Linked DNA regions of Homo sapiens. The protein of the gene in region 2 purifies or fractionates together with the protein of the main gene of each other region. This does not show direct contact. Each region holds a gene or a part of one and is shown on either strand. Other genes may lie near its edges. The genes, in order: UQCC1 and FADS1.

Evidence for each region.
Region 1: the proteins of FADS1 (region 2) and UQCC1 purify together in Homo sapiens (affinity purification with mass spectrometry; 2 studies listed by BioGRID and IntAct, with this or other methods). This does not show direct contact.

Annotation. Positions count from the first base shown.
Region 1 is NC_000020.11:35,405,885-35,421,436, forward strand, and holds the start of UQCC1 (ubiquinol-cytochrome c reductase complex assembly factor 1), read right to left. Parts: upstream 6,090-15,552; 5' UTR 6,080-6,089; coding exon 6,056-6,079; exon of another isoform or gene 6,031-6,055; intron 4,409-6,030; exon of another isoform or gene 4,171-4,408; intron 1-4,170. UniProt on the Homo sapiens protein: Required for the assembly of the ubiquinol-cytochrome c reductase complex (mitochondrial respiratory chain complex III or cytochrome b-c1 complex). Involved in cytochrome b translation and/or stability.
Region 2 is NC_000011.10:61,813,670-61,828,443, forward strand, and holds the start of FADS1 (acyl-CoA (8-3)-desaturase), read right to left. Parts: upstream 3,335-14,774; 5' UTR 3,261-3,334; coding exon 2,886-3,260; exon of another isoform or gene 2,758-2,885; coding exon of another isoform or gene 2,617-2,757; exon of another isoform or gene 2,534-2,616; intron 1,582-2,533; exon of another isoform or gene 1,567-1,581; coding exon of another isoform or gene 1,405-1,566; exon of another isoform or gene 1,188-1,404; intron 1-1,187. Other genes in the region: FADS2 (acyl-CoA 6-desaturase), read left to right, coding at 14,722-14,774.

The DNA.
Region 1 (15,552 bases), on a different chromosome or scaffold from region 2:
AAGACAAAATAAATTCTAGAATTGAAAAGTCCAACAACTAAAATGAAAAACTCATTAGAGGGACTGAACAGCAGATTTGAACAGGCAGAAGAAAATAATCAGTGGTCTTGAAGATAGGTCAATTTAGATCATCCAGTCCAAGGAACAGAAAGAAAAAGCAATAAAGACAAATTAGTAGCCTCAAAATGAAAAGCAAAAACAAAAAAAGAAAAAAAAGAACAAATTTAACAGCCTCAGACTGTGGGACACCATCAAACACACCAATATATGTATAATTAGAGTCTCAGAAGGAAAGAAAAGGACCGAAAAATATTTGAAGAAATAATGGCAGAAAACATCCCAAACATAATGGAAAATGGTAATTTAGGAATCCAAGAAGCTCTACTAACTCCAAATAGGATAAACACAAAGAGAGCCACAGACACATCATATGCAAGCTGCCAAGAGACAAAGATTCTTTAAATGAGCAAGAGAAGAAACTCATCATATACAAAGTATCCTCAAGAACATTAACAGTGGATTTCTTCTCAGAAACTGTAGCAGCCAGAAGGCAGTGGGATAAAATAGTCAAAACAAGGAAAGACAAAGATTTTCAAACAAGAATTCTATATCCAGCAAAACTATTATTCAAAAGTGAAGGAAAAAATGAAGATTTCCCAGATAAACAAAATGGAAAGAATTTGTCAGTAGTAGACTTGCCCTGCAAGAATAAGGCAGACCTTCAGGTTGAAATGAAAGGAAACTACAGAATAACTCAAATCTACATGAAGAAATAAAGTAGACTGGTAAAGGTAACTGTTTAGGTAAATAAAAAATACAGTACAAATGGATTTTTTGTTTGTAATTCTTTTTCTTTTTAATTTAAAAGACAACTACAAGAAGAAATAATTATAAATCTACATTGGTAGACATATAATGCATAAAGATGTAATTTAGATGACAATAACACAATGTTCGGGAAGGAACAGAGCTATATAGAAAGAAAGTCTTTACATATTACTGAAATGAAGTTCGTATTAATCCAAACAAGACTGTTATGAATTAAGATGTTCATTGTAATCCCAGGGCAGCCACTAAGAAAACAGCTCATAAAATATAGTAAAAGCTTGTAACATGTACACAAATTAGCTCAAAATGGATAAAAGACCAAAATGTAGGACCTAAAATGATACAACTTTCAAAAGAAAACTTACGGGAATGGCTTCATGACATTGGATTTTGCAATGATTTCTTGGACATGATATCAAAAAAGTAGGCAATAGGCCAGGCATGGTGGCTCACACCTGTAACCCCAGCACTCTGGGAGGCTGAGGTGGGCGGATCACTTGAGGCCAGGAGTTTGAGACCAGCCTGGCCAACATGGGAAAACCCCCTCTCTATTAAAAACATAAAAATTAGCCAGGTGTGCTGGTGCATGACTGTAATCCCAGCTACTTGGGAGGGTGAGGCAGGAGAATTGCTTGAACCTGGGAGGCAGGGGCTGCAGTGAGTCTAGATTGTGCCACTGCACTCTAGCCTGGGTGACAGTGCAAGACCCTGTCAAAAAAAAAAGAGTGGGCAATAAAAGAAAAAAAAATAAGTTGGACTTCATGAAAATTTAAAACTTTTGTGTATCAAAGAATAGTATCAACAGACTGAAACAGCAACCCATAGGATAGGAAAAATACATGCAAATCATATATCTGATGAGGGATTGATATTCAAAATATATGAAAAACTTGCCAGATGCAGTGGCTCATGCCTGTAATCCTTGCACTTCGGGAGGCCAAGGCGGGTGGATCACCTGAGGTCAGGAGTTCAAGACCCGCCTGGCCAACATAGCAAAACCCCATCTCTACTAAAAATACAAAATTTAAGGCTGGGCGTGGTGGCTCACGCCTGTAATCCCAGGATTTTGGGAGGCCGAGGCAGGCGGATCACCTGAGGTTGGGAGTTTGAGACCATCCTGACCAACATGGGGAAACCCCATCTCTACTAAAAATACAAAATTAGCCAGGTGTGGTGGTGCAGGTCTCTAATCCCAGCTACTTGGGAGGCTGAGGCGGGAGAATCACTTGAACTCAGGAGGCAGAGGTTGCGGTGAGCCGAGATCATGCCATTGCACTCCAGCCTGGGCAACACGCGTGAAACTCTGTCTCAAAAAGAAAAAAGACATGAAGAAGTGCCCAATATCACTAGTCACTAGAGAAATGTAAATCAATAATACAATGAGACACCATTTCATACTCATTAGAATGGCAATTGTCAAAAAACAGAATATAAGGCCACGTGTGGTGGTTCACACCTGTAATCCTAACACTTCGAGAGGCTGAGGCAGGAGTATCACTTAAACTCAGGAATTTGAGACCAGCCTGGGCAACATAGCAAGAACTCCTCTCTACTAAAAATTTAAAAACTAGCTGGGTGTGTTGGCACACACCTGTAGTCCCAGCTACTCGGGAGGCTAAGATGAGAGGATTACTTGAGCCCAGAAGTGGAGGCTGCAGTAAGCTGTCATTGGGCCACTGCACTCCAGCCTGCATGACACAGCAAGACCTTGTCTCAAAAACAAACAAACAAAAACCAGAAAATAACAAGTGTTGGCAAGGATGTGGTGAAACTGGAACCCTTGTGCACTGCTAGTGAGAATGTAAAACAGTGTATCTGCTGTGGAAAACAGTAGGACAATTCCTCAACAAATTAAACAGGCTGGACATAGTGGCTCACGCCTGTAGTCCCAGCACTTTGGGAGACCGAGACAATGGATTGCTTGAGCCCAGGAGTTCAAGGCCAGCCTGGGCAACATAAGGAGACCCCATCTCTACAAAAAAGAAAAAAAAAAGTAGCCAGGCGTGGTGGCACATGCCTGTGGTCCCAGCTACTCAGGAGGCTGAAGTGGGAGGATCACTTGAGCCCAGGAGGTCAAGGCTGCAGTGAGCTATGATTGAGCCACTACACTTCAGCACGCATGACAGAGCGAGACCCTATCTCCAAAAAAAAAAAAAGAGAAAATTCTGACACATGCTACAACATGGATGAATCTTGAGGACATTACGCTAAATGAAATAAGCCAGTCACAAAAGGTCAAATACTGTATGATTCCACTTATATGAGGTACACAAAGTAGTTAAACTCACGGAGACAGAAAGTAGAATGGTGGCTGCCAGGGGCTGGGGAGAAAAGACTATAGAGAGTTATTAATAGGTTCAGAGTTTCAGTTTTATAAAATGAAAATAATTCTGTGGATAAGGGTGGTAAAGATGGCACAACAATGTAAATGCACTCAATACCACAGAACTGTACACTTAAAAAGTTTCAAAGGTGGCCAAGCACAGTGGCTCATGCCTGTAATCCCAGCACTTTGGGAGGCCAAGGCGGGCAGATCACCTGAGGTCAGGAATTCAAGATCAGCCTGGCTAAAATGGTGAAACCCCATTTCTACTAAAAATACAAAAAATTAGCTGAACGTAGTGGCACGTGCCTGTAATCCCAGCTACTCAGGAGGCTGAGGCAGGAGAATCGCTTGAACCCGGGAGGCAGAGGTTGCAGTGAGCCAAGATCACGCCATTGCACTCCAGCTTGCGCAACAAGAGCAAAACTCCGTCTCAGAAAAAAAAAAAAAAGTTTAAAAGGTAAATTTTGTTACATGTATTTTACCACAACTTTTTTTTAATTTTCTAAAGTACAGGGTGGCTTTCTGCAATTTTTACTATTTCCAAAGAAAAGCAGAAATGATCAGCAATGCCCAGGACAACTCATAAAAACCATAAGCATGTCCAGTTCCACTGATCAAATGTCCAGGCTCTCTGCTGTAGTCATTCAACAATAGCAGTGTTTTAGTTTCCTCCTCCTTCCCAAAACCATCACTGGAGAAGGGAAAATATTGGCTGACAAGACAAAAAGAGGAAAAAATAAAGCAAGACTAACAAGAATGTTTCAGGAATACTTCTTTTTTTTTTTCAGACAGAGTTTCACTCTTTCACCCAGGCTGGACTGCAGTGGCACAATCTCAGCTCACTGCAACCTCCGCCTCCTGGGTTGAAGCAATTCTCGTGTCTCAGCCTCACGAGTAGCTGGGATTACAGGCGCCCACCACCAGGCCTGGCTAATTTTTGTATTTTTAGTAGAGACAGGGTTTCACCACGTTGGCCAGGCTGGTCTTGAACTCCTGGCCTCAAGTGATCCACCTACCTCAGCCTCCCAATGTGCTGGGATTACAGGTGTGAGCCACGGCACCTGGCCAGGAATACCTCTCTGTGGTTCAGTTTTCTTATCTGTAAAATAGAGGAAATAACACGCCCTCCTTTCCAAAGGGATGTTATAAGGATTAGGTAAGTATTTTAAAGTGCTTAGCACGTAGTAAGTGCCCTATAAAATGATAGTTGTCAGGCCAGGCTCGGTGGCTCATGCCTGTTATCCCAGCACTTTGGGAGGCCGCAGGAGGCGGATCATGAGGTCAGGAGTTCGAGACCAGTCTGGCCAACATGGTGAAACTCCATCTCTACTAAAAATACAAAAGTTAGCCAGGTGTGGTGGCAGGCGCCTGTAATCCCAGCTACTTGGGAGGCTGAAGCAGGAGAACTGCTTGAACCCAGGAGGCAGAGGTTGCAGTGAGCCGAGATCACACCGCTGAACTCCACCCTGGGTGACAGAGCGAGACTCCATCTCAAAAAAAAAAAAAATACAAAAATTAGTCAGGTGTGGTGTGGTGCATGCCTGTCATCCCAGCTACTCGGGAGGCTGGCACAGGAGAATTGCTTGAACCCGGGAGCAGAAGTTGCAGTGAGCCCGAGATGGCACCACTGCACTCCAGCTTCGGCGACAGAGCAAGACTCTGCCTCAAAAAAAAAAAAAAAAAAAACAAAACCCTAAAGGGTGGCAGGGGAAGGATTAAAAAAAAAAAAAAAAAAAAAACCACTAAATTCAGAACATTCTAATTGCCATTTCCCCAGCAGTCCTCATTTCTGAATCAATTTCTGGCCTGAAATCAAACAATCACTTCACCAGGTGAATCTTTCTGGCAGTTACAGGGGCTACTCTACAAATAAATATTTACTGAACAGCAGTCGAGGGTACCTCACTCTGCTAGGCTGGCAAGGAATACAAGAAGTAAAACTGTCGTCCTTGTAAGACATATATAAAAAGATCAAAAACACAAATGTAAAATAACAATTCAGAAGTTACCTAGACACAGGAATAGACCATGTCTACTATGAAAAACAGTGTCTTTGACCCAGTTTTTGAAGACTCGCTAAAACTATACACTCTCCCATCCCTCCATGATTAAAAACTAAGCTCTGTATCCTAACGTTTTTTCTGCTGCCACTTTCTTTTCTCCTTTAATTGCTAGAGAAAAGAGTATGCTAGAAGGGTCAGGACTAAATCTCAAGAGGTGCAGTAGTTTCACACACGGGTGCTAAAGAGTCTGGTAGTCTTTCCTTACTTCATTCATTTATTCAACAAGTAATCATTTAACACCTATGATGTGCCAGACACCATGCTAGGCAAAGTGAAAACGACGGAGACAGACATGACTCCAATTCTCACGCAGCTTTCAATCTAATAATCTATATTCCACTTAACTGTACAGTTAAGAACTGACTTATTACCTATGAAAGAAACCCTGAGAATCTCAGAATCTAAAGGGACTGCAGGAGATAAATGTCCTCGTTTTTCACATAGGGTCAATGAGGCCCAAAAGTGACTTGCTTAAAGTCACTATGCATCAGTGACAGTCAGGGACTAGAACCCAGGCCTCCTGAAACTCCAATCAGTGTCCTACATGCTCCTCTCCCTGAGGGGAAGCAGGTACATGGGGGAGGGAAGGAAAAGTAAACCCCATCAAATAAAGGCCAGATGTCAGTCTTCCCCTTCTCGAAAGATGGGGGAGCTAAGGTCAAAACGGGGTAGGAAGAGGTCGGAAGCTGCCTCAGTTTCCCCACGGAAAAGCGGCCACTCAGCCTAGCTATAACACAGGCTTCCCTCCTGCGATTCCTTCCAATTCCTCCCGCCCTGCCTTGTCGAACTCCAACCCGGGACCCAGAGAGCTACCGTAGAAAATTACTCCTTCACTCACAAGGACTCGCACCAGCAACGCCATGTTCCTCAATAACCATTTCCGGGTGAAGAGTGAGTTTCCGGTGTCCCCTTTTCTACGTCCTCCTTTTGCCGGCGAAAGACTGGCAAGGGGGGCGCAGGCGCAAAGAGGTCGCTACGCGCACGCGCTGTTGTTTTCTCGGCTGTGCACCAGGCTGTCGTGCCCGGGCACGCTCTCCCTGCTGTCTCCCCCACTACACGTAACAGTGGTTCAAATCCTTCCCCCACGCCTGTCTCCTTGACCCCAGACCTCGGGGCTTCTCATATCCCTCTCTTTATTCCCCACCTAACCCAGCCTCACTCCTCAGCCCCTCCTTCCCAAACTCCACCCCAACACTTTTCAATGGAGGTTGAAAAGAACAGGACTTTAGGAAATCCCAATCTTTAGAAAGAGCCAGAAGACCGGGCGCGGTGGCTCACGCCTGTAATCCCAGCACTTTGGGAGGCCGAGGCGGGCGGATCACCTGAGATCAGGAGTTCGAGACTAGCCTGGCCAACATGGCAAAACCCCGTCCCTAACTAAAAATACAAAGAAAGTAGCCGGGCATGTTGGTGTGTGCCTGTAATCCCAGCTACTCTGAAGGCAGAGGTTGCAGTGAGCCGAGATCGCGCCACTGCACTCCAGCCTGGGCGACAGAGCAGGACTGGACTCTGTCTCAAAAAAAAAAAAAAAAAAAAAAAAAAAAAAGCCAGAGAAGGAGGCTAAGATAAAAGAATACGGGGGATACCAGACTCCTGAAAGTCAAGGCAAGAAGGCGGTCATGTGCCGATCTGAAGCCTGGTAGAGGAAGAAACTTTTGGGATTTGTGGTTGGTTGGTTGTTTAAGGGAAACATCTTTGCATATTGATAGGAAAAGATTAGTGAAGAGTATACAGGGCCGTGCCCGGTGGCTCATGCCTGTAATCCCAACACTTTGGGAGGCCGAGGCAGGTGGATTGCCTGAGGTCAGGAGTTCAAGACCAGCCTGACCAATATGGTGAAACCCCGTCTCTACTGAAAATACGAAAAAAATTAGCCGGGCATGGTGGCGTGTGCCTGTAATCCCAGCTACTTGGGAGGCTGAGGCAGGGAATCGCTTGAACCCGGGAGGCAGAGGTTGCAGTGAGCTGAGACTGGGGCACTGAACTCCAGCCTGGGTGACAAAGCGAGACTCCGTCTCAAAAAAAAAAAAAAAAAAAGAGTATACAGGAGAATCAATCAAAGAGGCAAGGAGCTTCTTGAGGAAAGTGGCAGAGAACGGCCTTGGTAGAAGACTCCTCTTCCATTACATCCCAAGAGAAGAGAAGACAAAGTACTGGTGCTTTGGGGGTTGAGGGAGCAGAGGGGCAGGATGTTGAAGGACTTCTTTCATTTCATTCAGTCAACAAAGACCTATTGAGTCTTCCCTATGTGCTGAACACAAGACATACTGGCTTCATGGAGTTCTTAGACTGGTGGGGGAGGCATAGGAACCCAGTGAAAAAAATTAAAACTGGGGAGCTACTTTGGTTAGGTTGGTAAGGCCTCTCCAAGAAAGTGACATGTAAGATGAAATCTAAAGGAAGAAGAGGAGCTAGTCATGGGAAATAACTTCACTCGACTATTTTTTTAATTAAATTTATTGATTTTTATTAATTGACAAAAAATATATATTGTGTACAACAGGATGTTTTCTTTTTTCTTTTTTTTTTTTTTTTTGAGACAGAGTTTCACTCTTGTCGCCCAGGCTGGAGTGCAGTGGCTCAATCTCGGCTCACTGCAACCTCCACCTCCCAAGTCAAGCGATTCTCCTGCCTCAGACTCCCAAGTAGCTGGGATTACAGATGCGCACCACCACGCCTGGCTAATTTTTGTGTTTTCAGTAGAGACGGGGTTTTGCCATTTCGGCTAGGACGGTCTCAAACTCCTAACCTCAGGTGATCCACCCACATCGGCCTCCGAAAGTGCTGGGATTACAAGAGTGAGCCACCGTGCCCCCGGCCAGGATGTTTTAAAATATGTATACATTGTGAAATGGCTAAGTCAAGCTAATTAATATATGCATTACCTCATATTTTTGTGCTGGAAATGTTTAAAATATGTTCTTTAAGCAATTTTCAAGAATACAATACATATTCATAGTGGGTATAGTCACCATGTTATACAATAGATCTTTTCTTTTTTTTTTTGAGACGGAGTTTCACTCTTGTTGCCCAGGCTGGAGCGCAATGGCGTGATCTTGGCTCACTGCAACCTCTGCCTCCCGGGTTCAAGTGATTCTCCTGCCTCAGCCTCCTGAGTAGCTGGGATTACAGGCATGCGCCACCACGCCCAGCTAATATTATATTTTAGTAGAGACGGGGTTTCTCCATGTTGGTCAGGCTGGTCTCGAACTCCCGACCTCAGGTGATCCGCCTGCCTTGGCCTCCCAAAGTGGCCTCCTGAACTTATCTCTCTTAACTGAAATTTTGTATCCTTTGACAAACATCTCCTCAGCCTCTAGTAACCACCATTCTACTCTCTACTTCTGTGTGTTCAACTTATATTCCACATATGAGAGAAATCAAGCAGTGTTTGTCTTTCTGTGCCTCATTTATTTCTCTTAACATAACATCCTCCCAGTTCATCCATGTTGTCATAGATATGAGCATTTCCTTCTTTTTTTTTTCCTTGAGACAGAGTCTTGCTCTTGTTGCCCAGGCTGGAGTGCAGTGGCACAATCTTGGCTCACTGCAACCTCTCCCTCCCGGGTTCAAGCAATTCTCCTGCCTCAGCCTCCCAAGTAGCCTGGACTACAGGCATGTGCCACCACACCCAGCTAATTTTTATTTTTAGTAGAGATGGGGTTTCTCCATGTTGGTCAGGCTGGTCTTGAGCTCCCGACCTCAGGTGATCTGCCCACCTTGGCTTCCCAAAGTGTTGGGATTACAGGTGTGAGCCACCGCACCTGGCCAGCATTTCCTTCTTCTTTTAGGCTGAATAGCATTCCATTATATATATAAATCACTTTTTTTTTTTTTTGAGACAGAGTCTTGCTCTGCCGCCCAGGGTGGAGTGCAGTGACACAATCCCAGCTCACTGCAGCCTGTACCTCCTGGGTTCAAGCAATTCTTGTGCCTCAGTCTCCCAAGTAGCTGGGACTACAGGCACGTGCCACCATGTCCGGCTAATTTTTGTATTTTTAGTAGAGACAGGGTTTCACCATGCTGGCCAGGCTGGTCTCGAACTCCTGGCCTCAAGTCATCTGCCCACCTCTGCCTCCCAAAGTACTGGGATTACAGGCATGAGTCACTGTACCTGGTCATAAACCACATTTTCTTTCTTTCTTTCTTTCTTTTTTCTTTTTTTTTTTTTTTTTTTTTGAGACGGAGTCTCACTCTGCCACCAGGCTAGAGTGCAGTGATGCAATCTCAGCTCACTGCAACCTCCCCCTCCCAGGTTCAAGCGATTCTCCTGCCTCAGCCTCCTGAGTAGCAGGGATTACAGGCGTGCACCACTACACCCAGCTAATTTTTGTATTTTTAGTAGAGACGGGTTTCACCATGTTGGTCAGGATGGTCTCGGTCTCCTGACCTCATGATCTGCCCACCTCGGCCTCCCAAAGTGCTGGAATTACAGGCGTGAACAACCACGCCCAGCCACCACATTTTCTTTATTTGTTCATCACTAATGGACACTTAGGTTAATTCCATACTTGGCTGTTGTGAATACCACTGCAATGAACATGTTAGTATAGATGCCTCTTCAACATACTGATTTCATCTCCTTTGAATATATATCCAATAGTGAGACTGCTGTATCCTATGGTGGTTCTGTTTTTAATTGTTTGAGGAACCTCCATACTGTTTTCTATAATGGGTGTACTAATTTACATTCCACCAACAGTGTGCAAGGGTTCCCTTTCTCCACGTCCTTAGGAACAATGTTATAGTAGCCATTCGAACAGGTGCAAGGTAATATCTCATTGTGGCTTTAGATTGCATTTCCCTGATGATTAATGATGCTGAGCATTTTTTCATATACTTGTTGGCCATTTGTATGTCTTCTTTTGAGAAATGTCTATTCAGATCTTTTGCCCATTTTAAAATTTGGGTATTAACCCCTCATCAGATATATGGTTTTTAAATGTTTTCTCCCATTCCATACGTTGTCTCTTCACTCCGTTGATTGTTTCCTTTGCTGTGCAAAAGTTTCTTAGTTTCATATAACACTATTTCTCTATTTTCACTCTTTTTGCCTGTACTTTTGGGGTCATATTAAAAAAATTATTGCCCAGACCCAGGTCATGCAGCTTTTCCTCTATATTTTCTTCTTCTAGTAATTTTAGTTTGAGGTCTTGTGTTTAAGGCTTAAATCTATTTGGAATTGATTTTTATTTGAGACAGGGTCTTGCTCTGTCACCCAGGCTGGAGTGCAGTGGTGCAATCAAGGCTCACTGTAGCCTCAAAGTCCTGGGCTTAAGTGATCCTCCCTCCTCAGCCTCTTGAATAGCTGGGTCCGTAGGCATGTGCCACCATGCCTAGCTAATTTTTTTATTTTTAGTAGAGATGGGGTACGGGGGTCTCTCTATGTTTCCCAGGCTGGTCTCAATCTTCTGGGCTTGAGCAATCCTCTCATCTCAGCCTCTCAAAGTGCTAGGATTAAAGGTGTGAGCCATAACACCCGACCTTCGATTTTTGTATATGGTATGAGGTGAGAGTCTAATTTCATTCTGCATGTGGATATCTAGTTGTCCCTACACCATTTATTAAAAAGACTGCCCTTTACCCATTGTGTGTTCTTTGCACCGTTGTTGAAAATCAATTGACTGTAAATGCATAGGTTTATTTTGGGTCTCTATTCTGTTCTATTGGTCTATGTGTCTGTACAAATGCTATTCTATCAGCAAATGTTGGGAAGTGGGAGAGGGACAGAAGATTTCAGAACAAGAGTCTTGAGGTGGGGAAAAAAAACAGTACATTTTAAGGCCGGGTGCAGTGGTTCATGCCTGTAATCCCAACACTTTTGGGAGGCCGAGGCAGGTGGATCACCTGAGACCAGGAGTTCGAGACCAGCCTAGGCAACATGGCTAAACTCTGTCTCTACAAAAAAATACAAAAAATTAGCCGGGTATGGTCGGGGGTCGCTCTGTCGCCCAGGCTCGAGTGCAGTGGCGCAATCTCAGCTCACTGCAACCTCTGCCTCCCGGATTCAAGTGATTCTTCTGCCTCAGCCTCCCGAATAGCTGGGACTACAGCTGTGCATCACCATGCCCGGCTAATTTTTGCATTTTTAGTAGAGACAGGATTTCACCATATTGGCCAGGCTGTTCTTGAACTCCTGACCTCGTGATCCGCCCGCCTTGGCCTCCCAAAGTGCTGGGATTACAGGCGTGAGCCACCGCATCTGGCCAGAGGAATTATATTTTAAGAGACAGGATCTCTCTATGTTGCCCAACCTGATCATGAACTCCTGGGCTCAAGGGATCCTCCTGCCTCAGCCTCCTGAGTAACCGGGACTACATGTGAGAGCCACCGTATGCAGCCATTGGAGGATATTAAGTAGGGAGGGCTACCTAATTCATATTTAAGAAGTTGACTTTGGGCCATGTACGGTGGCTCACACCTGTAATCCCAACATTTTGGGAGGCCAGGCTGGGCAGATCTCTTGAGCCCAAGAGTTTGAGACCAGCCTGGGTAACATGGCAAAACCCTGCCTCTACTGAAAACACAGAAAAATTAGCTGGGTGTGGTGGTGTATGCCTGTGGTCCCAGCTACGCAGAAGGCTGAGATGGGAGGATCACCTGAGCCTGGGGAGGTCAAGGCTGCAGTGAGCACTGATCGTGCCACTGTACCCCAGCCTGGGTGACAAAGTGAGACCCTGTCTCAAAAAATATATACATTAATTAATTAAAATAAAAAATCAAGAAACAGTTTTTGTTGTGGTTTGTTTGTTTGTTTTTTGAGATGGAGTCTTGCTCTGTCACCCAGGCTGGAGTCCAATGGCGCAATCTCGGCTCACTGCAACCTCCGCCTCCTGGGTTCAAGCGATTCTCCAGCCTCGGCCTCCTGAGTAGCTGGGATTACAGGCGCCCGCCACCAAGCCCACCTAATTTTTGTATTTTTAGCAGAGGCGGGGTTTCACCATATTGGTCAGGCTGGTCTCGAACTCCTGACCTCAGGTGATCTGCCCGCCTCTGCCTCCCAAAGTGCTGGGATTACAGGGGTGATCCACCGTACCTGGTCAACTCCCAGTCTTAACACAAACAGAGCATATAATGATGGCAGACAACATTCCAGAGAGGGCTACAAGGGAAGTAATATTCAAATGGGAAGGCCAGGTTTCATTCATGCAGAAAGTAGAAGGAACTTTCTAGGAATGGGCTGGCAGTATAGACAACTTTATCTCACATAGATTCCATAGTCCTCTCACAGAGGACTCCCCATTCTCCTTAACCTCAGCTCCCCAGTGCTGCTCGGCTTCCCTCCGCTGCCAGAGCTCCTCAACTTCTTGTACCCCAAACCCTCAGCCTGAAGCCCCAGCAATCTCCACTGTTCTCCCCAAGCTCCCTCTGCCCATCTTTCTCTTCACAATGACTTCACCCCTCAGAATTCCCATACTTCTTTATAGGCCCCACATTGAAACCCAGCCGTTTATTTAAAATAAAACAATTGGGCCAAGCATGGTGGCTCATGCCCATAATCCCAGCAACTCAGGCAGCCCAGGCAAGAGGATTCCTTGAGGCCAGGAGTTTGAGACCAGTCTGGGCAACATAGTGAGACCCCATCTCTATGAAGAAAAAAAAAATTTTTTTTTTTTTGAGAGAGACTCTTGCTCTGTCGCCCAGGCTGGAGCAATCTCAGCTCACTGCAAACTCTTGGAAAACAGTCTGGCTGTTCTATGAATTTTAAACATACAGTTACTATATGATTCAGCCATTCCATTCCTAGGTATATATCCAAGAGAAATGAAAATATATATCCACACAAAAACTTGTTTGCAAATGTTCATCACAGCATTATTCATAATAGCCGAAAAGTAGAAGCAACCCAAATATCCATCAACCAAAGAATAGATAAAAACAATATGGTGGCCAGGCACAGTGGCTCACGCCTGTAATCCCAGCTCTTTGGGAGGCCGAGGTGGGGGGGATCACTCGAGGTCAGGAGTTCGAGACCAGCCTGGCCAACATGGCGAAACCCTGTCTCTACTAAAAATACCAAAAAAATTAGCCGGGCATGGTGGCAGGCGCCTGTAATCCCAGCTACTTGGGAGGCTGAGGCAAGAAAACTGCTTGAACCCGGGAGGTGGAGGTTGCAATGAGCCGAGATCGTGCCATTGCACTCCAATCCAGCCTGGGCAACAAGAGCAAAACTAAAAAAATGAAAAAACCACAATATGCTATATCCAGACAATGGATTATTACGCAGCAATAAAAAGAAATGAAATACTAATACATGCTACAACATGAATGACCCTCAAAAAACATTAAATGAAAGAAACCAGTCACAAGAGGCCACATATTGGATTGTTCCATTTCTATAAAGTGTGCTGCCCCACCCACTCCCATGGCCAATTTTAGACCTCAACACCAGAATTGTTTGAATTCTGAAATTTTTAATTTATGCCTTCTGTGTTCTCACCATCCTATTATTCTGGTTTTCATTCATTACCCCTAGTACGCCTGTTGTTCTACCCCATTGAGACACCACACTTTTTATCTCTTCTCTTTATAGTCTATTGACCCTCTCCCCTCTTTGCTTCTCCCATCTAGTTCCCATCTGGTCTATTGTTTTAATTTCTCTCTTGCCAGTATTAACTCCCTTGCTCAATTGTCTTCCTATCTCGTCCACCTAGAAAGACCTCAACCCTCCAATTGTCTATTTATTCCATGCCTGCCTCCGGATTCTTGAGTACTATCGAAGAAAATCATGCAAATATTATATTGGTACCACTAAATATGGTTTTCAACCTTTATTAAGTTATACTCTGTCCACCTTCTTCAAAACCACCATTTATAACTACATTAGATTGTTAGGGCTGCCATAAAAAAGTGCCACTATGTGGGTGGCTTAAAGCAATGGAAATGTATTGTTTGGTAGTTATGGAGGCTGGAAGTCTGAAATCAAGGTGTTGACAGGGCCACGCTCTATCTGTAGGTTCCAGGAGAGGAAGCTTCCTTGCCTTTTCTAGCTTCTGGAGATTGCCAACAATCCCTGGCATTTCTTACCTTGCACCTGCATAACTCCAATCTCTGCCACTGTTATCACATGACATTCTCCCTGGGTGTCTGTCTCTGTGTCTCTTCTCTTCCTCTTCTTTTTTTTTTTTTTTTTTTTTTGAGATGGAGTCTCATTGTGACACCCAGGCTGGAGTGCAATGGCGCGTCTCCACTCACTGCAACCTCCACCTCCCAGGTTCAAGTGATTCTCCTGCCTCAGCCTCCTGAGTAGCTGGGATTAAAGGCACCCACCACCACGCCTGGCTAATTTTTATATTTTTAGTAGAGACGGGGTTTCACCATGTTGATAAGGCTGGTCTTGAACTCCTGACCTCATGATCCACCTGCCTTAGCCTCCCAAAGTGCTGGGATTACAGGCATGAGCCACCATGCCCGGCCAATACGTATGAATTCTATCTGCTCCTCGCCAATCTCCACTGCCTCCTTCCTAGGTAAGACTAACGTCTTCTCTCACCTGGACTACTACAACTGACTTGATCAGCAAGTTATGTTGATAGAGCATTTCAGGCAGAAAGAATAGCACAATTCAAGAATTGGCTTGAAGATTTTGAGGACAAAAGGAAAGCCAAGATCAGTGTGACTGGAAGATAATGAGTGAGGGTTGCAGTATAAAAGATGAGGTCTGAGGCAGGGCGAGGTGGCTCACGCCTGTAATCCCAGCACTTTGGGAGGCCGAGGCGGGTGGATCACGAGTTCAGGAGATCGAGACCATCCTGGCTAACACAGTGAAATCCCATCTCTACTAAAAACAGAAAAAATTAGCCGGGCGTGGTGGTGGGCGCCTGTATTCCCAGCTACTCGGGAGGCTGAGGCGGGAGAATGGTGTGAACCCGGGAGGCAGAGCTTGCAGTAAGCGAAGATCGTGCCACTGCACTCCAGCCTGGGCAACAGAGCGAGACTCCGTCTCAAAAAAAAAAAAAAAAAAAAAAAAGATGAGGTCTGAGAGGCAGGCAGAGTCCAGATTTTGGGGGCCTTGAAGGTCCATGATAAGGAGTTTGCATTTTATTTTATTTTATTTTAAGCAAAGCAGTGACATGTTTTAAAAGGGCTCTCTTAGCTGGTTTACAGAGAATAGATTGTAGATCATAGCATAGTTTACTTCCAGCATGCTCTTTAGGCTTGGCAAGTTGAGATGTTAATGCGACCCCAATTTTGGGGCTTGCTCTAGCTTGCTTTCACTGTATATGAAACTGGAAAGCTATCCAAGTTGTTTTCATTTTAGCTTCAAATAAGGAAACCTCTTTTATTCTCTGTTAACTGCCAAGGATCAAGAGTCCCTCCCTGGAAGAGGTAAGG
Region 2 (14,774 bases):
TAAAAGCTGCTCCCGGCCGGGCGCGGTGGCTCACGCCTGTAATCCCAGCACTTTGGGAGGCCAAGGCGGGTGGATCACGAGGTCAGGAGATCGAGACCATCCTGGCTAACACAGTGAAACCCCGTCTCTACTAAAAATACAAAAAATTAGCCGGGCGAGGTAGCGGGCGCCTGTAGTCCCAGCTACTCGGGAGGCTGAGGCAGGAGAATGGCGTGAACCCCGGGGGAGGGCGGAGCCTGCAGTGAGCCGAGATCGCGCCACTGCACTCCAGCCTGGGCGACAGGGAGACTCCGTCTCAAAAAAAAAAAAAAAAAAAAAGGCTGCTCCCCCTCACACCCCCCAACGTCCAGCAGCGGCAACCTGCTCGGGTACCCTTCCACGCTGTGGAAGCTTTGTTCTTTGCTCTTCACAATAAATCTTGCTGCTGCTCACTCTTTGGGTCCACGCCACCTGTAAGAGCTGTAACACTCACCGCGAAGGTTCATGGCTTCATTCTTGACGTCAGCGAGACCACGAGCCCACCTGAAGGAACCAACTCCTGACACAGAAGCACAGGCCATCTCCCTAGGCCCAGCTGCCTTTTGAGGGTGCTCCCAGGTGTCCACAGTTTAAGATCACCGAGTATCTGCTCTAGTTAGAAGGATGCATCAAGGAATGGGAAGCATTGGCTGAGGGGAACCACTAAGAAACACCTGCCTGGGCTGGCCTTTCCCCTGGGTGTGTCCACAGACAGCTTTTGCCCAAGAATTTCAGTATAGGTGAGAAACAGGAGAGATGGGTGGGGCTGTGTCGGGCGTTGGTTCCTTCCGGCGGGTATGGTCTCACTGACTTCAAGAATGGAGCCGTGGACCTTCCCGCTGTTATAGCTCTTAAAGGAATAACACTCTTTGCAGACCCAAAGAATGAGCAGCAGCAAGGTTTAGTGTGACGAGCAAAAGAACAATGCTTCCACAGCCTGTAAGGGAACTGGAGCGGGTTGCAGCAGCTGGCTGGGGTGGCCAGCTTTTATTGTCTTAGTTGTCCCTGCCCACGTCCTGCTGATTGGCTCATTTTACAAACCTCTAGCTAGCTACAGAGCGCCAATTGGTGCGTTTTTACAGAGCACTGATTGGTGCATTTTACAAACCTCTAGATACAGAAAAGTTCTCTAGGTCCCCATTCGACCCATCAACTCCAGCTGGCTTCACCTCTCAGGGCTATGAGACTTCCGTCCCTTCTTGCGGGTCTTTCAATAAGTCCCTTTCCTCTCTTAGCTAGGGTTCTCCAAAAACCACGAAGAGGAAGACTTCCCTACGTCCGAACTGGGGCACTTCTGCGTTTCTTCCCTTTCCCTCCACCGTTGTTCTGGGTAGGGCTCCACATTTCCCTAAGCACTCTGGCCACCCCCTGCCCCAAGGCAGCTACTTTGGGTTGTGCAAGGTAAGGTCCATGGCGATAAGATTCACGTTGGCAGGTCCGGCAGCCCCGGGCCCTGTAAGTGATGCGGCGTGTGGGGCGGGGGCCGGGGCGGAGCCGGCGGCCGGTGGCACCACACATACGGACCAATCGCCGTCCCCGCCGCGGCATTCCCGGCCCCAAATCACACTGCGGGAAGCTCCAGCGTTGGTGCCTGTTTCGTCTGCGCATGCGCCGGGACACGCCTGCGCCCTTGGCCGCAGTCAGGGCTCCCGAGTGGTCACTCTGGTTGACCCGCGCAAGCTCTGGCCTCGCCCACTAGGCTGGTCGCGTCAGAGGGTGGGGCGGGTCTTCGCCCCGCAGCGTCTAAGCTCTGCTGCGACGTTATGGGAACCTGGTGACCCGCGGCACACTCTGGGACGCCAGGGTAGTGGATAGGGACAGTGGAGGGCATCACGCTGCAGGGCACGGGATCAGAGGGGGATGCAAGGGGAGGGGACGCCATTCTGGCCGCCAAGGGGGAAACGCGGTGAAGGGAACGCCCCGACTTTCGAGTCCCTAGGACTGAGTCCCCAGGACTCCAACCCAGCAGAGAGGCGCCGGGGCCTTAGCTCTGAGGGCTGTGGTCTAGAAAGGGAAGCAGCAGGCCTGGGGCTGGGGCGCGCGCCGACCCCGCAGTGAGACCAAGGGAAGAAGGGACAGGACCCCGCGAAGGGCCTACCGCCCCAGAGCGTAAACAGCGGTCCGCTCCGCGGAATAGCTGAAGACCTCGCTGGCCTGCGGCTCAGTGGCCTCCCCGGCGATTCGAGAACAGCTCTGGGGGTCCTCGCTAAGTGTATGCCATTCCCAATCCCTTATGTACGCCAGCGGCCGCTTGCCCTCCCCGGCCAGCGCTGTCCCTTCCGCGTCCTCCAGTCTTCACACGACGCAGGGGTCCCCAAGGCAGCGGTCTCCCCAAGCTTCCCGTTTCAGCCCCATCCTCGAGAATGGGCTCCTTTCCTGCTCCCTCTCCGCTCCTGCTGGCGAGTGGAGACCGGCACCTAGGTCCAGACGCGGCTGCGCTGCCTCTCCTAGCCATCGAGACAGGATGTGACTCCCTCCCCTGGCCACTGACCCCCTCCCTCCCCAGGCGGCCTGCATCCTTGCTCTCCTCCCTCCTAGCCTACCCAGCTCGGGGTTCTGTCCCCGCCCAGAGACCTGAGGCTCGGGGCTGCAGATGGAATGCACGGCAGGGAGGCGGGACCCTTTGTTTGTGTGTGCGTGTTGTTGGCCTCCATCCCCACTCCCCAGACTCCACTTCTCCAGGCCTCTCTCCCGCCTTTTCATCCCGCATCCGCAGGACACCCAATCACCGGGCAACAGGTATGATCAGGCGCCTCCGGGCTTTCCTCCGAATTAGTCGGTGTTTGGCTCGGAGTGCGTAACTCTGTCTCCCCTGCACTCAGCCTCCGGTCCCGCCCTCTCCTGTGCCCCCGCCTGGCTGCGCTCACCGTGGCATCCTGCCCGGCGTAGTGGCTGATGACCCGGGAGCCCCCTGGATGCCGGCGGGTGAACTCGCTGATGTTGTACACCTTACGGTCGATCACTAGCCACCGCTCCTCGCACCCTGAGCGCTGGGCCACCTCGTCCCAGGTGAAGTAGCGCGGGGTAGGTCCCTGAGCCGCGGTCTCGGCGGCCACCGGGTCGGGGGCCATAGCTGGCCTGGCGACGCCGCGCGCCGGGCCAGCAGGGGCTGTCAGGCGCGTGCTCGGGGTCCGCGGGCTCCAGGAGTGGATTTGCTGGCGCGCGCCCAGAGCCAGCCGCCTGCGCGCCGGGTTTTCAGCACCGCAGGGCAGACCGGCGGGCCTCGCAGCGCGCGTTCCCATTGGCCGAGCCTCGTGGCGCGGGGAGCGAGATCCCGTCCCCCGGTGGGTCTTGGGCAACTCACAGCTGGGCTGCCAACACGCGCCCCCTCGCGGGCTCCCTAAAGGCGTCGCCGCCGGATTCGACTTCCTGACGTCAGGCGGGCATCGCGGCGTTGGCTCCCAGGGGGCGCCGCGGTAGGAACAGCGGTTCTAGTGCAGGCCCTGGGTGCGGGGCCGCGCTGCAGGAGTGAATGGACTGAGGGGCCAGGGCTGCGGGGTGGCCGCAGGAAGGGTGGGCGGGGCCGGGGTTGAGGTTTTTCCGTGCACGAGGCTGCCCGGGCGGTCGCGGACATCATCTTTAGGCTGTGGATGCCTTGGCCGGGGTCTCCAGACGCTGACCCTCCAGGGTTGGAAACTACTGCCTGCTTGCCACGTCGTGCCGCCAATTGTGCTGCCCGAAGTAGCAGCCTGAGAGCCCTTGAAAGTTGCAGTTATCTTGTGAACAGCATATTTACGGTCTCTTGGGCTTGGTGGTGGTTGGGGGAGGGCTGTTAATGCTTTAATTTGTTCAATGAAACATTTAAAATGCCCCACAATTTTTATAACCCTGTTTGCCTCTTTTTGTTTTTATTTTTATTGTATTTTGGAAAAATTCACTGGGATCCTTGAGTGATGATCCTAGCGTCTCCTGACCCTTAGGTGTTTCACCTGAAAAGCCTGGGTCTTCAAGCTGAGGCATTTCTGTTCTAGCCTGGAGGCGCCTAGGAGCCCTGGGAGACTTTTTAAGCAGAGAGATTTGGCATTTAGATCTCTGGGTTTTAGAGGAGTGGGAACGCACCTAAAAGTGGGGTTGCCAGTTACAAAGCTGTTGCAGTCCTGAAGAGACCCAGAGTTTAGGTCCAAAATTTTATTTATTCAACAAACACTTTATAAAGCACTTACTGTGTGCCAGGCACTGTTCTTAGCGTTTTGCAAACCTTAACTCATTTAATTCTCCTAACAACCCTATGAGGTTGGAACAATTAACCTAATTTACAGTGAAGAAACTGAGCCCGGGGGAGGTTATTTTGTCACACAGCTTGTAAGTGGAGGGCTGAGATTTGACCCTGGCCTGTGCTCTGAACTCTCAGGCTCTGCCATATTTCTCATTACACTGGTATTTGGGCACTTCAAAGGGAAAGGAAACATAACTGTCCCAAGCACTGAGCTAGATTCTGAGCACGTAGGAGTCAGGAGAGGGTGATACAGAATAGACTAGGTGAAATATGGCTAGATTTCTGGTAGAAAAGGATTAATTCATTCCATCCAAATTCTTCATTTTATAGATAAGAAAATTGAGGTTCGAAATGGGGAAGGGGCTTACCAAGTTCCCATAGGGAAGTTTAGATGTCCTGACTTCCAGGTAAGATGCCAGGCTATTGGACCCTGCTCAGGAATGATGGTCCACACAGCTGCACCTCTGTACAGCCAATATTCCTTTTTTAAAAACCTTGCCCAACAACTTGGCAGTGTCTAATGCGAGCTACAAAACATTTTCTATTCTTTGATCAAGCAGTTTCACTCTTGGTAAAGTAGGGGAGACTGTGCAAAGATGCAGAAATAGCCAATTTAATAGCAAAAACTGGAAATAAACCCGAGTCCTGACAATAAGAAAATCGCCAAGCTTATTGGGATCTGTTAACACAATGAAGAATTAAAGAATGATTTTAAATGGCTAGAATGTGAACTATATTGATAGATATAGAATCCTTCCCCGTGAAATAAGCAGAACCCAAAGTAGTATGGGTTCGCTGATTACAACTATATAAGAAATTCATGGGTATTAAATAACAGAAGAGAGGTCCTTTACATAAACCATTTTTCCTATGTGACTGTGCAGTGGGATAAAAGCTCTCATACTGCTGGTAGAAGTGTAAGTTGATTAAACTGGAAAAAATAGTTTGACAACTTATATAGAAATTTAAGATTTTTTTTTTTTTTGAGATGGAGTCTCGCTCTGTCGCCCAGGCTGGAGTGCAGTGGCCTGATCTCAGCTTGCTGCAAGCTCCACCTCCCAGGTTCATGGCATTCTCCTGCCTTAGCCTCCCAAGTAGCTGGGACTACAGGTGCCCGCCACCACGCCCAGCTAATTTTGTTTTTGTATTTTTAGTAGAGTTGGGGTTTCACCATGTTAGCCAGGATGGCTTTGATCTCCTGACCTCGTGATCTGCCCGCCTCGGCCTCCCAAAGTGCTGGGATTACAGGCGTGAGCCACCGCACCCGGCCAGAATTTAGGAATGTTTTGAATACTGAAGAGATGAAAAAAAATAGAAAAATAAAAATGTTCCCAATAATTCCATGTTTAGGAATATAGCCTAAGGAAATGTTCTTAGAAAAATATTTATAGGTCAGGCGGGGTGCCTCACGCCTATAATCCTAGCACTTTGGGAGGTCGAGGCAGGCGGATTGCCTGAGCTCAGGAGTTCAAGACCAGCCTGAACAAAAGAAATCGGCTGGGCGTGGCGGCGTGCGCCTGTAGTCCCAGCTACTCGGGAGGCTGAGGCAGGAGAATTGCTTGAATCCGGGAGGCAGAGGTTGCAGTGAGCCGAGATTGTGCCACTGCACTCCAGCCTGGGCAACAAAGCAAGATTCTATATCCACACACAAAAAAAGAAAACTATTTATAAACAAAAAATATTCATTAAAGCAGTATCTATGATAGCGGGAAATGGAAACACTCTAAATGCCCATCAGTGAAATATTTTGCAGACATTGAAAATAATGTCATCTTTCCTTTAATACAGAATCAAGGAAAAATGTTTTATGTAAATCTTTTATTTTATTATACTTTAAGTTTTAAGGTACATATGCACAACATGGAGGTTTGTTACATATGTATACATGTGCCATGTTGGTGTGCTGCACCCATTAACTCGTCATTTAGCATTAGGTATATCTCCTAATGCTATCCCTCCCCCCTCCCCCGAATCAAGGAAAATTAAATAATATGATGTAAGTTTGGCTACAGAGATAACTGTTCTATAAAAAGACTAGGTTGGGCGCGGTGGCTCACACCTGTAATCCCAGCACTTTGGGAGGCAGAGGCAGGTGGACCACCTGAGGCCAGGAGCTCGAGACCCACCTGGCCAACATGGTGAAACTCTGTCTCTACTAAAATACAAAAATTAGTGCCTGTAATCCCAGCTACTTGGGAGGCTGAGTCAGGAGAATCACCTGGGCAACATGGTGAGACTGCACCTCAGAAAAAACCAAAAAACCCATACCACTTGTAAGATAATTCCTTGATCAACCCCACCTACCTAGAACCATTCATTAAGTGTTTTATTTAACATTTGTGGGGTGTCTCCTCTTTGTATTCCCAGCACCTACTTTGGTAAGGTGCTGGGAATACAAAGTTCAGTACTATATGGGTCATGCCTAGTCATGTCTACTGGAGGAGAGAGACAAGTGAGTCACGGATTATAGGTCAGTAGGATAGATGCAAATTAAATTCATCTTACTCAGGATTTAAACAGCTTATATGACATGACTTTGCATTCATGTTTCTTTGCTTTTCATGTGTTCTTAGGTCAGTGTCATGTATTTTGCTACCTCCCTAACGAGCTTATAATCCAGGATAGGGCTGTGGATTCTGTTTATACTACCAATACATATTCAGAGCACCTTGGTTTGGAGTTCTAGGTGGAATCCCACATAAATTTGCTGAATTGGCCGGGCGTGGCAGCTCATGCCTGTAATCCCTGCACTTTGGGAGGGTGAGGAGGGCGGATCACCTGAGGTCAGGAGCTCCAGACCCACTTGGCCAACACGGTGAAACCCTGTCTCTACTAAAATACAAAAATTAGCCGGGTGTGGTGGGGGGTGCCTGTAATCCCAGCTACTTTGTGGGGGTGAGGCAGGAGAATCGCTTGAACCCAGGAGGCAAAGGTTGCAGTGAGCCGAGATTGCACCACTGCACTCCAGCCTGGGTGACAGAGCCAGACTCTGTCTCTAAATAAATAAATAAATAAAAAATTTGCTGAATCAACTGATGATTTCAACCTGAAAAAATACAGGTGAGTAAGCCTATAGGCCACTAGGCAAATGTCGTGTTGCCCTCTCATCTCCTTACCCACCTACACAGGTGGTCACACAGACTGCAATAAACCCATATCCAGGTCAACTAAAGGAAACCTTTGCCTTGCAGGCCCTGTTGATCCTAAGGGAACTTGCCTCATCCTGGATATGAATCACATACTTAATTTTAGGTTGCCACTTGTGAATACTAACTGTTCTGGCCAAATTAATCCTCAAGGAACAGAACGAAATGAGCTTAAGACCCTAATGCCAGGCCAGGCACAGTGACTCGTGCCTATAATCCCAGTGCTTTGGGAGGCTGAGGTGGGAGGATTACTTGAGCTCAGGAGTTGGAGACCAGCCTAGACAACATAGTGAGACCCCTTCCTAACTGTCCCACCATTTTCTCTCTAAAGAAAAGAAAAAAAAAGACCTTAATGCCGATTGTAATGAAGCCATAATTGAATAACCTAACTGCCAGTGGCTGTTGGAATAACCTGAATTGTGAGTTCAAATTTTGATCCATTTTAACAAAAGATCCTAAACATAATAGTTGGCCAATAGCCTGGATCCTTTACAAAGTCAACACATATAGGAGAAGCAATACCGGTTGTGCTCAGCCTCTGCTGCAGCCTCCCCTCAGTAGCAGCCCTTCAGGCCATTAAAGACCAAAACCATTTTTGAAAAATCTGGATTTCTGTGAAATTGGATAACTTATGGGGGTGCAGTGACTACAACACAGTAGGCACTAATAAAGTTGACAGAATCAGTCTTTGTTTTAAGAAAAGTCATCTGTAATAATTCTGCAGATTAATGTTAAGTAATATTAAAAATAATTTATGACATATAGTGCTTAAACTAAAGGGAGAATCCCAATCATACCTCTATTAGAGGCAGAGCGAGAGCTAGAAACAGGACTCTCATTTTGCTGCATTCTAAGAGTGTGGGAGATTGGGATGGGGCAGAGGCAGGCTCATGGAGGAATTCACGGGATTTCCTTAATGCAGTCTTTTTTTTTTTTTTGAGACAGAGTCTCGCTCTGTCACCCAGGCTGGAGTGCAGTGGTGCTGTCTTGGCTCACTGCAACCTCCGCCTCCAGGGCTCACGCCATTCTCCTGCCTCAGCCTCCTGAGTAGCTGGGACTACAGGCGTCTGCCACCACGCCTGGCTAATTTTTTGTATTTTCAGTAGAGACAAAGTTTCACCATGTTAGCCAGGATGGTCTCCATCTCCTGACTTGGTGATCCACCCGCCTCAGACTCCCAAAGTGCTGGGATTACAGGCGTGAGCCACCGCGCCCGGCCCAGTCTTCTTATCATTGTATAGAATATAGATGCCTTAGGGACAGATATATTAAACCCACTGTTTTATAGACAAGGTGACAGATCCAAAGAGCTGAAGCCACACATGAAATTTAGTATATTTGGGGCTAGAATTTACCCCAGAACTTATTTATAACTTTTAGTTCCTCTCTACATGAGTTCCTTAGCAGTGAGTTCAATAAATGTTTTGGTATAAGGCCACCCTGGTTCAAAGAGGAGAAGGCTGTTGTCCTTGCTTCTCTGCGGTGCCTTCTTCCTCCCAGGCCCTCAGACCTGCCTCTATTAAGTGGGAGAAGGGAGGCCTGGGTAGGTAGGTCCCAGATCTTCAGATTGCCCGGGGAATGGGTCTGGAGTCCTCTAGGCGTTGTTGTAAGCATTTTGCTGGGCCTTTAATGTAACTTTCCAGTACAAATGATCTCTCTTTAAAATAAAACAAAAAAGCTAAGCTTAAAATTTTATAATGAGAATATTTACTTCACTATAGTAAGTCATCATATATCTATAAACACACATATATATACTCCCAATATACTTAACTTTTTCCCTATTGTTGGACATTTGTGTAGAAGTTTCGCTTGTATAAATGTTGCGATGGATATTTTTGTATATAGATATTGGTTTCTATTTCTGAACATTTTCTTAGGATAAATTCTACATGTGTAATTAGTGGATCAGGTAATAACATTTTTAGTCTCTTGTCATTTGTTGCCAAATTACCAATTTACTGCTGAATTATTTCACAGGTATTCCTCGAGCACTTAGTATGCATTCCTTAGTTTTACTGCACTTCTTATCACCAGAACAGGAAAGGAATGGTGTCCTACAGCTCCTTGACCAAGTACCTCTCCACCAATACTATGAGCACTAAAGATGCAGCAACGAAGCACTAGACTCTGGGATGTGAAGATCTCAAATTCTATTCTCTGTGCACTTCAGAGTTGGAGAAGGATCCATCAAGTTTCAGTAGAATGTACCAAGGAAGGGAGGCAATGTGGTAGAATGGAAAGAATAAGGATTGTAGTTGAGACACCTGCAACCTGGACCTGCTAGTCCACCTACTGCTGTGTAATCTTGGACATTATGTCCACCTCTATGGGTTTCGGATCCCTTATCTGTAAAGTGAAGAGATTGTCCAGATGCTTTCCAGCACTAGCAATCTGTGCTTTAAAGTTTTACCTAACATACCATACCTTTTATCAATGTCCACCTAGAGATAATAACCCAGCTTATTTTATTTGAGTTTTGAGACAGGGTCTTGCTCTGTCTTGCACTCCAGCTGGAGTGCAGTGGCACGATCATGGATCACTGAAGTCTCCACCTCTGCGGTTCAAGCATTCCTCCCACCTCAGCCTCCCGAGTAGCTGGGACTATAGGCATGCACCACCACATCCAACTAATTTTTTATATTTTTGTACAGACAGGGTCTCACTGTGTTGCCCAGGCTGGTCTCAAACTCCTGGGCTCAAGTGATCCTCCCACCTTGGCCTCCCAAAGTGTTGGGATTACAGGTGTGAGCCACCACGCCTGGCCTAACCCAGTTTCTTAGATAGGGTCCCCAGCCTGTCATTTAAGGCATCTAAATTTGATGCACTTACTAAGTTGATGCCATTTTTGTTGTTGAAAATTATTCATTTTTTAAAAATAGTTATGACTTTCACCACATATTAATAAATCATTATCTAGTGAGCTTGGTTAAAGTTTGACCTCACCAATATTGCTAGTTAAGAAAATACATGTATGGCACTTTCACATACCTTGTGTCCTTTGAGCCTCGTTATTAAAATAGATGAGATAGGTTAGAAATCACTATCTCCGCTGGGTGCGGTGGCTTATGCCTGTAATCCCAGCACTTTGGGAGGCCGAGGTGGGCAGATCACCTGAGGTCGGGAGTTCGAGACCAACCTCACCAACATGGAGAAACCCTGTCTCTACTAAAAATACAAAATTAGCTGGGTGTGGTGGCACATGCCATGTAATCCCAGCTACTCGGGAGGCTGAGGCAGGAGAATCGCTTGAACCCGGGAGGCAGAGGTTGCAGTGAGCCAAGATTGCACCACTGCACTCCAGCCTGGGGGATAGAGTGAGACTCCATCTTGGGGGAAAAAAAAAGAGAGAGAGAGAGAGAGAGAGAGAGAGAGAGAGAGAGAGGGAGGGAGGGAGGGAGGGAGGGAGGGAGAGAGAGAGAGAGAGAGAGAGAGAGAGAGAAAGAAAGAAAGGAAAGAAAGAAAGAAAGAAAGAAAGAAAAATCACTGTCTCCTTTTTATCATGAGGAAACTGAAGGTCAGAGACAGAGGTCTAACATCACATGGTAGGTATGGGAAAGGAATACTGTAGCGGTCTGTAATTGCTTTTGGTTTGTGACTTCCCACAAAAAGGAACAGACCCTGTTCCCCAAAGCCCAGGTCTGCTGCTTGGCTTATGACCTACACCTAATAGAGTAACTCAGCCGTCTGATAACAGTGGCCCAATGGTTAGCATCTGATGCAGAGCCCATTAAACTGGAATTAATCCTTGGGAGCAGGGAATGGGGGAGAATTATTTCTGCTAGCGTAGCTTAGCAAATACAGCCATATTTTTTTGTCACATGGAGGAGACCCTTCTGCAGTAAGAGAGAATCAGGTGTTGGCCGGGTGCAGTGGCTCACGCCTGTAATCCCAGCACTTTGGGAGGCTGAGGTGGGCAGATCACGAGGTCAGAAGATCGAGACCATCATGGCCAACATGGTGAAACCCCATCTCTACTAAAAATACAAAAATTATCTGGGCATGGTGCCACCCACCACGGCCTCCTAAAGTGCTGGGATTATAGGCATAAGCCACTGCTCCCAGCCTAGGTGTTTCAAACATAACGTTAAAATAGAATTTTTAATTTTTCACCCCTGTACTAACTCTGTTCCCTCATCTTGGTAAATGGTCCCATTATCTATTCATTTGCTCAACTCAAATGCTAGAATCAGACTTATTTCTCTTATTCCTTCATCTCTACCATCACCCCTGCCCCTGTACCTCCAACTAATGCGGTCTTGATTCTACCTCCAAAGGATATTCTAGGCTGGGCAGGGTGGCTCACGCCTGTAATCCCAGCACTCTGGGAGGCTGAGGTGGGCAGATCACCTGAGGTCAGGAGTTTGAGACCAGCCTGGCCAACATGGTGAAACCCTGTCTCTACTAAAAATATAAAAATTAGCCGGGCATGGTGGCGGGTGCTTGTAATCCCAGCTACTCAGGAGGCTGAGGCAGTAGAACCATTTGAACCCATGAGGTGGAGGTTGCAGTGAGCTGAGATCGCACCACTGCACTCCAGCCTGGGCGACAGAGTGAGACCCTGTCTCAAAAAAAAAAAAAAAAGAAAGAAAAAGCCCTTTGGGAGGCCGAGGCAGGTGGATCACGAGGTCAGGAGATCGAGACCATCCTGGCTAACACGGTGAAACCCCGTCTCTACTAAAAATACAAAAAAATTAGCCGGGTGTGGTGGCAGGCGCCTGTAGTCCCAGCTACTCGGGAGGCTGAGGCAGGAGAATGGCGTGAACCTGGGAGGTGGAGCTTGCAGTGAGTAGAGATCGCACCACTGCACTCTAGCCTGGGCAACAGAGTGAGACTGCATCTCAAAAAAAAATTAGAGGGCAGGGAGGCACATGGCAGTGTCCAGTGTGGGGTCAGCCCCCTAAAGTTCTCTCTTAATTCAGGCCTCCCCTCCCCTCTCCTCGAGCACTGCCCTCATCTTTGAACTCATCACTGTTCCCCAGTTTCTCCCGTACATCCCAGTCCAGCCCCAGCCTCTGGAGTTATCTTTCTACACCATGGATCTGATCACAGTACACCTGCTTTACGGATGTCCAAGCCTCCTCCATGGTAAAGTCCTCCCTTCCTACCCCTTACTGAGGCTGCTGGGGCTTTTCTCAATTTGAGCCCCATCTACCGCCGGCCTCATTGGAGCCATTCTTTGAACTTCATTCATTCATTTGTGTCTTCAACACATGTTTTTATGTTTTTTCAGGACCTACCCTGGCTGGTACTGTGCTGGGAGCCGCTGGGGACCCCAGGCCCTGGCCGGTCCACGCTTCTCAGCCACCCTACACAGGCCACCCATACGTGCTCCCTTTTAGGGCCTGAACCTTCAAAGCCTCTGTGAGATACTCCCTGGTTCTGCCTTTCAGCTATCACTCCCTGCTCCGAGCTCCACACCCTTTACAAATGTTCATTAAAGTTATCTATATGGTATGTTAATCCATTTCTGAGAAAATAATTTTCTTGGTTCCATTTCCGTCAACGTTTGACAGTCCTCAAGGCCACCATACTCTCTGGAGGTCTTGCTTCATCCTCTTATTTTGTACAGAAGGCTTTTGTTTGGGATGTCTGCTCACACTCAAAGACAGAGAGGCCTTACTGTCTTTATGTCTGCAGTCTGTGGAGTGAATGAAGGATGCTCAGGGCTGACACCAGCATGAAATGTGATGGGAGAGGTTGGGGACTGTGTGAATGTGAGGAAAGGGAGCCCATCTGCCCCCCCAAGTACAACCCCACCAGTTGGGCAGAGTGATCCCCCCACCACCCCTGCATTGCTGTGAAATTTAGATTGGGCAGGGCCCGTTTGACCATCTCTCTCAATCTCAGGCTCTCCATTTTCAAGTGAGATGTAATAATATGCGTCCTGTTTACCTCTCAGCCTGTGATGAGAATCTAATGATTAGGGTGTGCTAGCACACAGGCACCTGTAAATCCCATTGAAATCTGAGGGCCCTATAACTCCTCTAGTGATTCCCAAGCCTCGTGCACCCCACCCTCTCTGTTCATCCTTACTTCCCACGTGTCCCGTTAGCCCTCCGGATGCAGTCAGGCCCATTTCCCCCAGGACGCCCGGCACTAAGCCGCCCCATCCAGCTGGGGTCTGAGGGGCCTGTCTCTTGCCCCACGCCTAAAAGACCTAACCCTCCTCCTATCCCTTCGATACGGCAGTCTTTATTTGCTGGAGTCTGCACAACATCACTGCCCAATGATGTGTCTGCTTCCACGATTCCCAAAGAGACTGAGCTTACTGAGACCAGGGCAAGGACCGCGCCAGTTCCTCATCGCCCCCTTCCTCTGCCTTCCCCTCCCTTCCCCCTCACCGCAGCCATGGCGCCCAGACCAAGAAAGCAGAGCAGAGGTTCCGCAATTCTTTTCTAAGATTGTCTGACTAGAGGGTTCAAAGCCCTCTAATCCAAGGCCGGCTTGTGTCTCTAGGGAGGTTGCAGAAAGGCGCCAGAATGTGGATGGCGCGGACAATGTGGGATACTGGAGTCTCGACTGCCGCGCGCCAAGGAAGGGCGTCACCTAGCCAAGCCGGCCCTGGAGTTGAGTGCCCCGCAGCCCGCCGGTCCACCCGCCCGGCCGCTTGCTGGCACCCTGGTGGCCGCGCCGGCTTTGTGTCGGCATCAGGTGCAAACCCCCAGAGCGCCGGGCGTGCGCGCACGCGCCCCGGAGCGCGCGGAGCCCATTCGTTGCCCCCACCGGGATCTCCTCTAGGATCTCCTCCGGCGCCCGGGGCCGGAGAGTGGGGGAGGGAGGAGGTCGGACACGTAGCCTGCCTCGCAGCAGGGCTCGACTCCACGCGGGAGGGCGGGGGAGCCGGGGACCCGCCGCTCCAGCCCGCTGGCCTTCGAAAGATCCTCCTGGGCCAATGGCAGGCGGGGCGACGCGACCGGATTGGTGCAGGCGCTCTGCTGATCGCTGTGGAAACTCGGGCGGCGGGGAACGCGGGAGGATGTGGAACCCGAGGCGGGGGGAGCCGGAGGGGCGGGCAGAGGAGGTGTCGAGGCCCTGAGCTCCCGGGGAGTTTTTACTGGAGGCAAAAGTCCATAGCGGGAGGGCTGAGGGAGGGGCGGAGGAAGGGGACCGCTTGGGGGCACTGGGAAGCCAGGGATCCTCCGCCAGGAAGGCAGGGACACTCCCGAGCGCAGGCGAGAAGGCTGGGGGAGGGGGCGCGGTGGGAGGAGTAGGAGAAGACAAAAGCCGAAAGCGAAGAGGGCCCGGGCTGCACACACCGGCTGGGAGGCAGCCGTCTGTGCAGCGAGCAGCCGGCGCGGGGAGGCCGCAGTGCACGGGGCGTCACAGTCGGCAGGCAGCATGGGGAAGGGAGGGAACCAGGGCGAGGGGGCCGCCGAGCGCGAGGTGTCGGT